Linked DNA regions of Homo sapiens. The protein of the gene in region 3 purifies or fractionates together with the protein of the main gene of each other region. This does not show direct contact. Each region holds a gene or a part of one and is shown on either strand. Other genes may lie near its edges.

What was found.
Region 1: the proteins of ESR2 (region 3) and PTCD3 purify together in Homo sapiens (affinity purification with mass spectrometry; 3 studies listed by BioGRID and IntAct, with this or other methods). This does not show direct contact.
Region 2: the proteins of ESR2 (region 3) and UBE3A purify together in Homo sapiens (affinity purification with western blotting; 4 studies listed by BioGRID). This does not show direct contact.

What each region holds. Positions count from the first base shown.
Region 1 is NC_000002.12:86,112,717-86,116,372, reverse strand, and holds part of PTCD3 (small ribosomal subunit protein mS39 precursor), read right to left. Parts: intron 1-3,656. UniProt on the Homo sapiens protein: Mitochondrial RNA-binding protein that has a role in mitochondrial translation.
Region 2 is NC_000015.10:25,365,971-25,369,626, forward strand, and holds part of UBE3A (ubiquitin-protein ligase E3A), read right to left. Parts: intron 1-3,656. UniProt on the Homo sapiens protein: E3 ubiquitin-protein ligase which accepts ubiquitin from an E2 ubiquitin-conjugating enzyme in the form of a thioester and transfers it to its substrates.
Region 3 is NC_000014.9:64,284,312-64,287,967, reverse strand, and holds part of ESR2 (estrogen receptor beta), read left to right. Parts: intron 1-3,656.

The DNA.
Region 1 (3,656 bases), on a different chromosome or scaffold from region 3:
GCAGAGAGGGTGTCTTGCTGTGTCACCCAAGCTGGTCTCAAACTCCTGGCCTCAAGCAGTTCTCTCACTTCTGCCTTACAAAGGGCTAGGATTATAGACGTGAGCCACTGTATCCAGCCCACAAGTCTTTCTAGCTAAATTTTTAAGAGGACCTTGTGAGTTTTGATAAACAAAAATTCCGTAAGTTGTAATTATGTATGTAACCTAAATGCGCAAACGTGTGTGGGCATATATACATGTATATATAGAGAAAAAAGACAAAAGACAAACACCTGCACTGTACTCTCAGCTCTACAAGACTTGCCTTTAATTATGCAAGGCAAGCAATGGCTTAAGCCTCCCTCCCCATGGCTGATTTTAATATTTAAGTTTGCTACCACTGGGGACTGTTTTAAACTCTAGGTAAGAATCATCTGAATTAACTAGTCCTAACAGCAGAATCCCAGAATAGGATTTCCTCCAAAGCAAGGTCACTATCCACCCACGCTCAACTTCACCAAGAGTCCCTCCTCCAAATGGAAGATATCACCGTGCCCTCTGAGGAATGAACAACAGAACCTTCTCCCACGTCCTGTTACCCATTAAAATTGCTCCCTAAACCTGAGCATAATCAACTCTCCAATACCACCAGGGGCCCCACTGAGAAATGCCCCAGAATTGCTTTCTTTATTCTCTTCTGTGTCTGAGTGCCTTACTTGGGCCTTTATTCCAAAGCAAAAACTTATCCTATATCCTTAATGCTGTTTTACTGACCTGGACTCCTCAGGGAGGGGGCACAGAAGCTTCCCTGCAGCTCTCAACGGAAAGCTGCTCATACCTGGAACCTGGAGGCAGTGTTTTATTTTGGACCTAGCTTTCTGCTACCCCTTTCAAAAACCCCTTTCCCTTGAGCCTCACCTTAGCAGCCCTGTTGTGAACTTCAGTTTTTATTTGAATTATACTAATGGAAAGCCAATGTTGAATTCTTAAGAGTGATATGATCCAGGGTCACTACAGCTGCTGAACTGAGAGCAGTGTGCAGGGAGGTGCAGTGGGAGACGACAGAGACTGCTGCAATTAATCCAGACTTGTAAGACGACAATAACCAAGGTGACTGGTAGTGATATCAGGCATCTAAAATTTTGATATTTTGCAGAAAAGAGTTAACAGACCTGAAACCATTATCCTTAGGAAGGTCTGCGTCCAAGGCTGGCCCTTGGCTGCCATCTGGGAACCTGGATATTGGAAGGGTTCTCACCATTCCTAGAACTGCTAAGAATGGTTCACTGTGCCTAACCTGTTTGTACAACGTGTTTTGTGCCAAACACCTGCTTCCCTTCTGGGAGTATGGAAACTTGGTATAATATATGCCAGCCAGTGGGTGGTCTACATGGCCAGCCTCCCCTAAAAACTCTGGGCACTGGGTCTCTAATGAGCTTTGGTAGACACTTTGCATGTGTTGTCACAAGTCACTGATGGAGGAATTAAGCATGTCCTGTGTTGAATCTTCTGGAGAGGTCTTTTGGAAGCTTGTGACTGATTTCTTTTGGTCTTTATCCAATGAGCCTTTTCTCTTTGCTGACTTTGCTTTGTATCTTCTTGCTGTCATAACTCTTAGCCTGGGAGTGGTCACGGAGACCTCACACACACGTATCTTTTGAAGGGATAAACAAAGGCTTTGCTAACAATTCCCAGGATTTTGGCCTGAGCAGCTATAAGAATGGAGTTGCCATTAATGAGATGGCAAAGAAATATGTGAGGAATGTTTGGAGGGAATGGGGTTTGGTTTTGGATATGCTAAGCTCTTTATCACACTCTCAAGTGGAAAGCTTTCCCATTCTCCACATAGCTCTCTTTTCTAAAATGTCTGCTTAGAATTCCTTTACCCCCATCCTGGCTAACACAGTGAAACTCCGTCTCTACTAAAAATACAAAAATTAGCCGGGCGTGGGGGTGGGGGCGCCTGTAGTCCCAGCTACTCAGGAGGCTGAGGCAGGAGAATGGCGTGAGCCCAGGAGGCAGAGCTTGCAGTGAGCTGAGATTGCGCCACTGCACTCCAGCCTGGGTGACAGAGGGAGACTCCGTCTCTTTAAAAAAAAAAAAAGAAAGAAAAAAAAGAATTCCTTTCTCAGTCTTGGCGATACAACCCCTTCTCAGTGCTACCTCAGTCTTCCCCTCTAGAACTACACAATATCTGTGTCTAATTCTATATCCAGCACAGTGCTTGATAAGCATCATAAGGGCACAAAATATTGTTGCTGAATGAATGGATAAACGAATAACTCTTGGATTTTAAGGGCCAGATAAGTCACAATTCTACACACAATTCTATAACTTCTTTGATTTGAAAGTGGCCCTGGGCCATTCTCATTGAAATGTTGAGAATATCTCGGAGGTCCATTTCTATGTTTACATTTCAGGTGCCTATTTATGGATAAGTGAGCTACTGAAAATCTCAATGCTTTGCAAGTAGGGAGATGTAGTAAAGTCCTTTTTCAGAAACTGGTAGAGTACACCAGTGCACATTAGACCCAACACTATCTTTAGTAGCTCCATCTTTATTTTATATTTAATTTTTTTGTGTGTGGCGGGGGGGACAGGGTCTCACTCTGTGGAGTACAGTGGTGCGATCCTGGCTCACCGCAACCTCCACCTCCACCTCCCAGGATCAAGTGAGCCTCACCTCAGCCTCCCAAGTAGCTGGGACTACAGGCGCATACTACCACGCTCAGCTAATTTTTGTGTTTTTTTGTAGAGACAGGGTTTCACCATGTTGCCCAGACTGATCTCAAAGTCCCGAGCTCACAGGATCCACCCGCCTTGACCTCCCAAACTGCTGGGATTACAGGCATGAGCCACTATGTCCAGCCTAGTAGTTCCATTTTTAGATGTAGTTTAATATCCACAATAGAAGAACAATTCTGCGTACTTGTAATAATCGACTTAAGGAGGATCAATATCCATACAGATACTGTGGCAGAAAAAAAGACTTAATTATTTTAGACTTTTCCCCACAGACGAAATTAAAAGTTTTTGGTTAATAAAAAATACAACCAAGCAGAAAGTTCCATTTCTGATGCATTTACCAAAGTTTCAGTGTATCTACCAGACTACAAACTCTACTCTTGAGTTGCCAACAGAGAAAATTTCATGTCAATGAAATCAACAATACAGTAGTAGCAGTAACAAAATACAATGTACCAAGAATTTCCTTTGTCCCAGACTCTATCCTAAATCTTACGTATACTTAATTCATTTGTTAATAATTCCACTGCAACCTTGAGGTTTGGTGCTATAATTAACCCCCAATTTATAAGTCAGGAAACAGAAGTATCAAGAGGTAAAGTAACTTCCCTAAGATCATAAAGCTAGTTGCTTGGCTATTAAAACAAACCAGTAGGCTCCAGGACCCAGATTATTAATCATTACATGATTGTCAGCATGACAGGTACATTATTTCTCCAAGTTGGTATACTACAGCCAAATCGTCCCCTAAGAACATACATTTCAACAAGCCCTTCCAGGGATTAAAGATCACTGGTATGGTAGAAAAACACTGCATTTCGAGATAAAAGGCGTGAAATTAAGCCTTTAATTAAGGTTTTAACATCCTAACCAGCCACTGGCCACTTTCAAAACCTTAGCTTCCTCCTTTGCCAAATAAAGGGATTTGATAA
Region 2 (3,656 bases), on a different chromosome or scaffold from region 3:
TGACTTCTATTTCCAATTCTGCCATTAATTTATGTAGGCTGGAATCTCTTTTAGATTTCATTTTCCTCACATGTAATACTAAGTTTGATGTTTCATTGTCTTAAATTATTATATAATGCTGAGGATCTATGTATATATAGGCTTCATTCTCTCATTCAGTTTCTGAGAAATTACTTTGAGGGCATAAACCAAGCATATTTCTTGGTTTCATTTTTGATTTCAATTAGAATAAATCACAAGAAAGAACAATGGAAATTACATGTTAACCACAATATAGTGTATGTGTAAGACAAAATTAAACATACCTAGTGCAGCACAGAATAATCTCATTTTTAAAGCTCTGTGAGTCAATGAATAAATAAAAGAATTACGTTCATGTTTCACTAGTAAGAGTGTTCACCAATGCTGGAAGCTGGGAGCTGAAAATGCTGGAAGCTGGGTTAGACTAGGCTATTAGAAACCAGATAAAAAGGGCCAGTGACTTTTAGAGGGGATTTTGCAGAACCTCCTGGTAGTGGGGCTTTTTATCTGTGCCAATCACCTTTATCTGTGCTAATTCCTATTTTTGAACTTCCCTATTCAATTCCACATCTCAGCCATTCCTTTTGGTTTTTAGATATTTATGTGAAATGCTAGAACTCCCTGACTAATTGGAACCAAGTTTCACATCATCATCATCCTCTATTCCAAGCTTGCTGTCCCCATGATCCTCTTAAAAATCTGAGTTTCCAAAACACATAAACATACTTGTATATCAAAATGGCCTTTCTCTTTCTCTCTATATATGCACACATACACACATAAACACACATGCACACACACCCCCACCTGAGCTGAACCAAAGGCCATCTTCCCAAATATTGGAGTCTGGCTTTATCAAAATATTTGTGGAGTATTACCAGAAGTTCAGATTCATAGGCTCTACAATACAGCTTCTAATCTAAACCTCTAGAGGTTAGGGCCCTGGATTTTATTTATTTATTTATTTATTTTTTTTAAACAATTTTCCCATTCAGATGTGAAGGCAGTTTGAGGGACCTCATGATGGCAATACTATATTCTTCCATAAACTTATAACCTCTATCTTCTCCTTTAAGAAGTAATTTAAAAAATCTTAATACATACTATCATTGGAAGTGCTTCATCTAAGAAAAATGAGAAATTATCTACTTGTAAAAGAACACACAAATGGGTATATTTACATATTTGTAAATATGTAAATATTTACATATTTGTAAATATGTAAATATTTACATATTTGTAAATATGTAAATATTTGCATATTTGTAAATATGTAAATATTTACATATTTAAATTAAATTAATTTACATATTAAATTAAATTACATATTTATATTAAAAATGTAAATTTGTAAATATGGTTTTACATATTTGTAAAAACCTCATCACATTAGGAATGTCATTCAAATGAAAGGTGAAGTCTAAGCTCATGTTTATCACTGTACTGTTTTCTAAGGAACAATAACGAAAAAATACTGAAAATAAGTCCTAGGGGAACTATGGCAGTAAGTTAAACGGGTAGGGTGGGGGTGTTCTTAAGCAGTTCTAAGGTATTTGTGAAGAGACAACTTATATTCTATTGATTCTAAAATTCACTTTTTTCACATTATCTCTGAAATCAGATTACACCATACAAATGATAGCATCTTACAATGAATTGCTGGTATTTTTCTGTCTTAGCAGTAATAAAATGATAGTGTTTCCTACAATCAGAGATTAGTGAAAATACTATCAACATGAATTCTTCTCTTGTCATCAAAGACAATTTCTCTAAAAACCTCAGGAAAAAAGCTGCTAGTCTGGTTTGAATTTCACAATATATAAAAGCAATGAATATATTTTTCTTTTTTAAAAAAATCCACAATTATTAATTCAAGTTACCACTCCTCAACAGAAAACATACAAGAGTCTCATATATGAAGTCACTATTTTCTGGGCTTGATTTCTAAACTAAGGAGTGGATAACTCTAAGGTTTCTTTTAGCTCTTAAAGCCTAGGATCCCATAATTTTATTTATCAATATTAAGCTTACCACAAAGTTTCTCATTTCTTCTTTTCCACCCAACCCTGCTATACAATTCCAAAATTAGCAAGTCATAAAAAAGTGGCCACTAGTTTGTTCACTGTGATATATAAGAATGAGGCTTAAAAAGCAGAGATCCTTGGGAAATAAGATCTTGAAAAATTCATCACTTTTGAGCTTTCATATGAGAGAATAATCTTAAACCACTTTCTATTATAGAACTTCTACTATGTGTTACTAAAATATGTGGCTTTATCATAATCATCACCTGCTGTGAATACTTACTTCAAAAAATTACACAGGTTATCAATTTTACTTATAAGACCTATTTCGATGCTGGTTTTTCTAGTCTTTTCACATTCTGTTATTTTTTTAAAAAAAAGAAAAGGAAGAAAAAGCAAGGGAGAAAGAAAGTTAAGAGTAAAATCTGCTTAGTGTGAGCATTCAGAGCCCCTAAGGAAGCTTCTCTGTAAGCATCATCTCTTTCTATTTTCACAGTTTATTAAACTGCCTAACACACATGATTTCTGAAGTGAACTGCTTTTGTGGGCTGGCAATATTCAAGTACATATACTATCTAGTGAATCCTGATTTATGATAGGCCACACTATATTATCTAATTTTGATATAATTAAGCAGAACTTGCTAAAAACAAGTTACCATAATTAAAGAGCTCACAGTTAATTTTACACTAACACCTAAGGCTTTAAAAGCAGTTGTTTCCTTAAAATTCTAGAATAGAATTTAAAATATAGAATAAAGTATATACCAAGTACTTAAACTTTTGTTTTTAGTCTTGCTTTACTAGAGAAAAAAATGGGGGACTGAGGAAAATAAGACTGAGTAGACTTCTGAGCGAAAGACAGATAAGGAAGGTAGACAATTTTTTGAACCCTGGAATGATTCTTACAGTGTAATTTCATTGCCTTTTAAAGGCTAGACATAGCTTTTGATGAAGACAGCTGAAGGGATCTCACCTCAAGAAGCCAAACATAAAGTATGTAGCTTTGGCATTTGCAGTTCTGCTCCAACAATGGATAGTCATAGACAGACCTCAACATACCTTTCATAAAACATCACTCACATTCTTATAAAATACCCTATCATTCTGCTAAACTATGTAAAGTAAGGTGCTGGCTGCCTTATGATCAGTCATTAAGTGTATTAATTATTCATGTGTCTCAAAACTATGTAAGTGAAATAAAAAGGGTACCAGAAAGCAAGCAATAATAATGACTTCAGGCAGTTAAAGCCCCCTTTTGTCTCTGCTAGAAAACCACCTGAGTTGCTTAAATAATGCAGAATCTTTCTCCAACACTATAAACATATCTGACATTAAAAAAAAAAAACAAACCAGTAACAAAAAAAAAAAAAACACACAAAATCTCTGCAATTTTTAATTTCTGAGATGTCAAATAACTTTTTCCACCGGGCTACAGCTTTATGAATTCTCGAATTTAGACAATTCTAAAACTAAAATTTAGACATTCTAAAACTAAAATACATTTTAAAGTAAAAATCACATTTCCTAGTTGTCTGTGTCAGACAACTTTACTAGTATACTATAGTATTATTAACTACCTTAATTTTTGTTGACATTAAATTTTACTTGA
Region 3 (3,656 bases):
TTGGTTGGCCAGGTGAAATTCCATGCCAGGCCCAACAATTAAACTCTTTAGAGACAATTTTTTCCTGTTGTACCAGAACATTGTACTGAGGCCATGTTTGAACATTCAATCGATGTGTTGGGAAAACTCTGCCCTACAATGTTAAAGAAATTAAATCTTTTGGGGAGTCTTTCCTTTGACCAGTTTATATCTCTGTTTTAGAGGAGGGCTTCTCAACCAGAATGGGTTTGTTGACTTATTTTTACAGACCTCTGGTAGAAAGGAGGTCTTTTTTTGCTACCTGTTCTCCTGTCTCAGAGAACTATTACAATGGTGTAAGTTCATCATTTCTTCCCCTTATTATGGCTCTGCTTAGGAAGAAAAACTCTTTGCATTGGCTACCAAGTACCTAACTATTCAAGATGCCACTGACAAAGAGTTAATCTGTGAATCATGTGAATCTGATATATCTGAAATATATCCAAACAAAAAGCACCTAGCCTTTTAATGACTCTCCAGAAGTCAGTTCTCTAACTTTAATTATCATCCTTCTGGGGATATGTGGAAATTCTACAGAAGTTGATTGGTGATATGTTGAGATGTGAGATCTGTATTTTCTAAGCAAAGTTGCCATGCACCTGATTGATTGGCTAGGTGTATCCTGGCATTTGTCATTTGTTGGTGGGGTCTGATAGTTGGTTTCACCACTGCTGGGTACCCAGAGTCATCACATCCATAGAGACAGAATGTAGGCTGGTGGTTGCCAGGGGCTGGGGGAAGGGAGGAGTGGGGAATTTGTTTAACAGAGAGTTTTAGTTTTGCAAGATGAAATGAGTTCTAGAGATTGGTTGCACAATAATGTGAATATCCTTAACACTACTGAACTTTATACTTAGAAATGGCTAAGATGGTAAGTTTTATGTTACATGTATTTTAACACAATTAAAAAAGAAAAAAAAAAAAACAACTTCAGGCCAGGCACGGTGACTCACACCTGTAATCCCAGCACTTTGGGAGGCTAAGGCGGGCAGATCACTTGAGGTCAGGAGTTCAAGACCAGCCTGGCCAACATGGTGAAACCCCATCTCTACTAAAAATACAAAAATTAGCCTGGCCTAATTGTGCATGCTTATAATCCCAGCTAATTGTGAGGCTGAGGCAGGGGAATCGCCTCAAACCCTGGAGGTGGAGGTTGCAATGAGCCGAGATCACACCACTGCACTCTCCAGCCTGGGTGACAGAGTGAGATTTCATTTCAAAACAAAAAACCACTTTAGAAACTGCTAGTTTTGGCAATAGTTATCACTATATGTTTTATCCTGCATATTTTCTGTTAAGAATAAGGAATTGTTTATGTTGATCAGGAATCTAAGTAATTAAAATACAAAATTCTGGCTGGTGGCTCTCGCTTGTAATCCCAGCACTTTGGGAGGCCAAGGCGGGTGGATCATTTGAGGTCGGAAGTTCAAGACCAGGCTGGTCAACATGGTGAAACCCCATCTCTACTAAAAGTACAAAAAATTAGCTGGGCATGGTGGTAGGCACCTGTAATCCCAGCTACTAGGGAGGCTGAGGCAGGAGAAGCACTTGAAGTCAAGAGGCGGAGGTTGCAGTGAGCCAAGATTGTACCACTGCACTCCAGCCTGGGTGACACAGCGAAACTCCATGTAAAAAAAAAATGAAATATAAAATTCCATACTCATTATTAATTACATATAGTATTAAAATAAAACCCAAACACCAAACCTTCCTTGATCCTATATCCTTCTCCAGCTACCATTCTCTCTCCTCTCCTTGGTCCAAATTTTTGATTTACAATGTTGGTTGGAAGTGGTACCACTTTGGTGTTAGTTCCTTATCATTTTACCTGGTCTGTCCTGCCTCTTCCTGGTACATTAGCTCCCTGAAGGCAGGGTGTATGTCCCAGAACTCCTTGAAGTCCCTTTTCTCAGCATACTACCATGCCTACTGCAGCACCCCCCATCTTTAATGTCCTTGACTTGGTGAAATATTACATTTTGAACACATTTCCTCACTTCCTTATGACAAATATTGATTGAGTTTCAGTGCAAGGTGAGTAAGAAATGGTACTTGCTTTCAAGGAGCTAAAAATCTGAATTTCCTTTTTTTTTTCTTTTTCTTTTTCTTTTTTTTTTTTTTTTGAGACAGAGTCTCACTCTGTCACCTGGGCTGGAGTGCAGTGGCACGATCTCAGCTTAATGCAGCCTCCGCCTCCCAGATTCAGTGATTCTCATGTCTTAGCCTCTCGAGTAGCTGGGACTACAGGCATGCACCACCACGCCTGGCTAACTTTTGTATTTTTAGTGAAGATGGTGTTTCACCATCTTGGCCAGGCTGGCCTCAAACTCTTGACCTCATGTGATCCACCCACCTCGGCCTCCCAAAGTGCTGAGATTACAGGCATTGACTTTACTTCTTACTCTCCTATGCACCTCTATCATTTTGAAGAAGGGTTCAAGGTAGTTCTGATAAGCAGGATTAGGTTTGTATGTAAGTGATTAAAGGGGTGCTATGAGCAAAAAAAGTGTGAAGGTATAACAAGCCAACCACCTCACAATGCAGTTTGCATGTTTCTTAATGGACATAGCAGGTTTTCTGTAAGAAAACAGCAGGAGATTCGTGTGGAATGATGGGTTGAGGCAACATAGTGGCATCCCTTGAATGCTCGAAGAATGTGACTTAGAGTTTGGTGGGAAGCAGAGAGCTGGGTTTTAAGAACATGAATCTGACAACTCTATGGATCTGGAGGAGAAGCTAACTGGGGACGAGGAGCAGTAAGAAGCCTGTTACAGATGCACTGATAAGAAGTAATGAGAGCTGGCCGGGCACAGTGGCTCACGCCTGTAATCCCAGCACTTTGGGAGGCCGAGGCGGGCAAATCACAAGGTCAGGATTTCAAGACGAGCCTGGCCAACATGGTGAAACGCCGTCTCTACTAAAAATACAAAAAGTTAGCTGGGCGTGGTGGCGGGCGCCTATAATCCCAGCTACTCGGGATGCTGAGGCAGAAGAATCGCTTGAACCTGGAAGGTGGAGGTTGCAGTGAGCCGAGATTGCGCCACTGCACTCCAGCCTGGGTGACAGTGCGAGACTCCGTCTCAAAAAAAAAAAAAAAAAGTAATGCGATAATGAGAGCTTACTTCAAGATGGCAGCAAAAGACAGTGGAAAAAAGGCATTGGGAAAAAAAGCCAATGTGCCTTGATGAGTAAAGTTAACTGAGTCAAGGGGAGAAGTCAAAGGTAACTATGATGGGCTTTTTCTATTAACACAAATAGGAAATGAGTGGTTTTGGGAAAGAAAGTGATGAATTACCCCTCAGATATTGTATTAATTGTCTATTACTGTGGCCGGGCATGGTAGCTCATGCCTGTAATCCCAGCACTTTGGGAGGCCGAAACAGGCAGATCACTTGAGGTCAGGAGTTCGAGACCAGCCTGGCCAACACGGTGAAACCCTGTCTCTACTAAAAATACAAAAATTAGTGTGGTGGTGTATGCCTGTAATCCCAGCTACTCAGGAGGCTGAGACATGATAATTGCTTGAACCTGGGAGGCAGAGATTGCAGTGAGCTGATATGGCGCCATTGCACTCCAGCCTAGGCAACAAGAGTGAAACTCCATCTCAAAAAAAAAGATTTGCCTGTAATCAGCCAGCA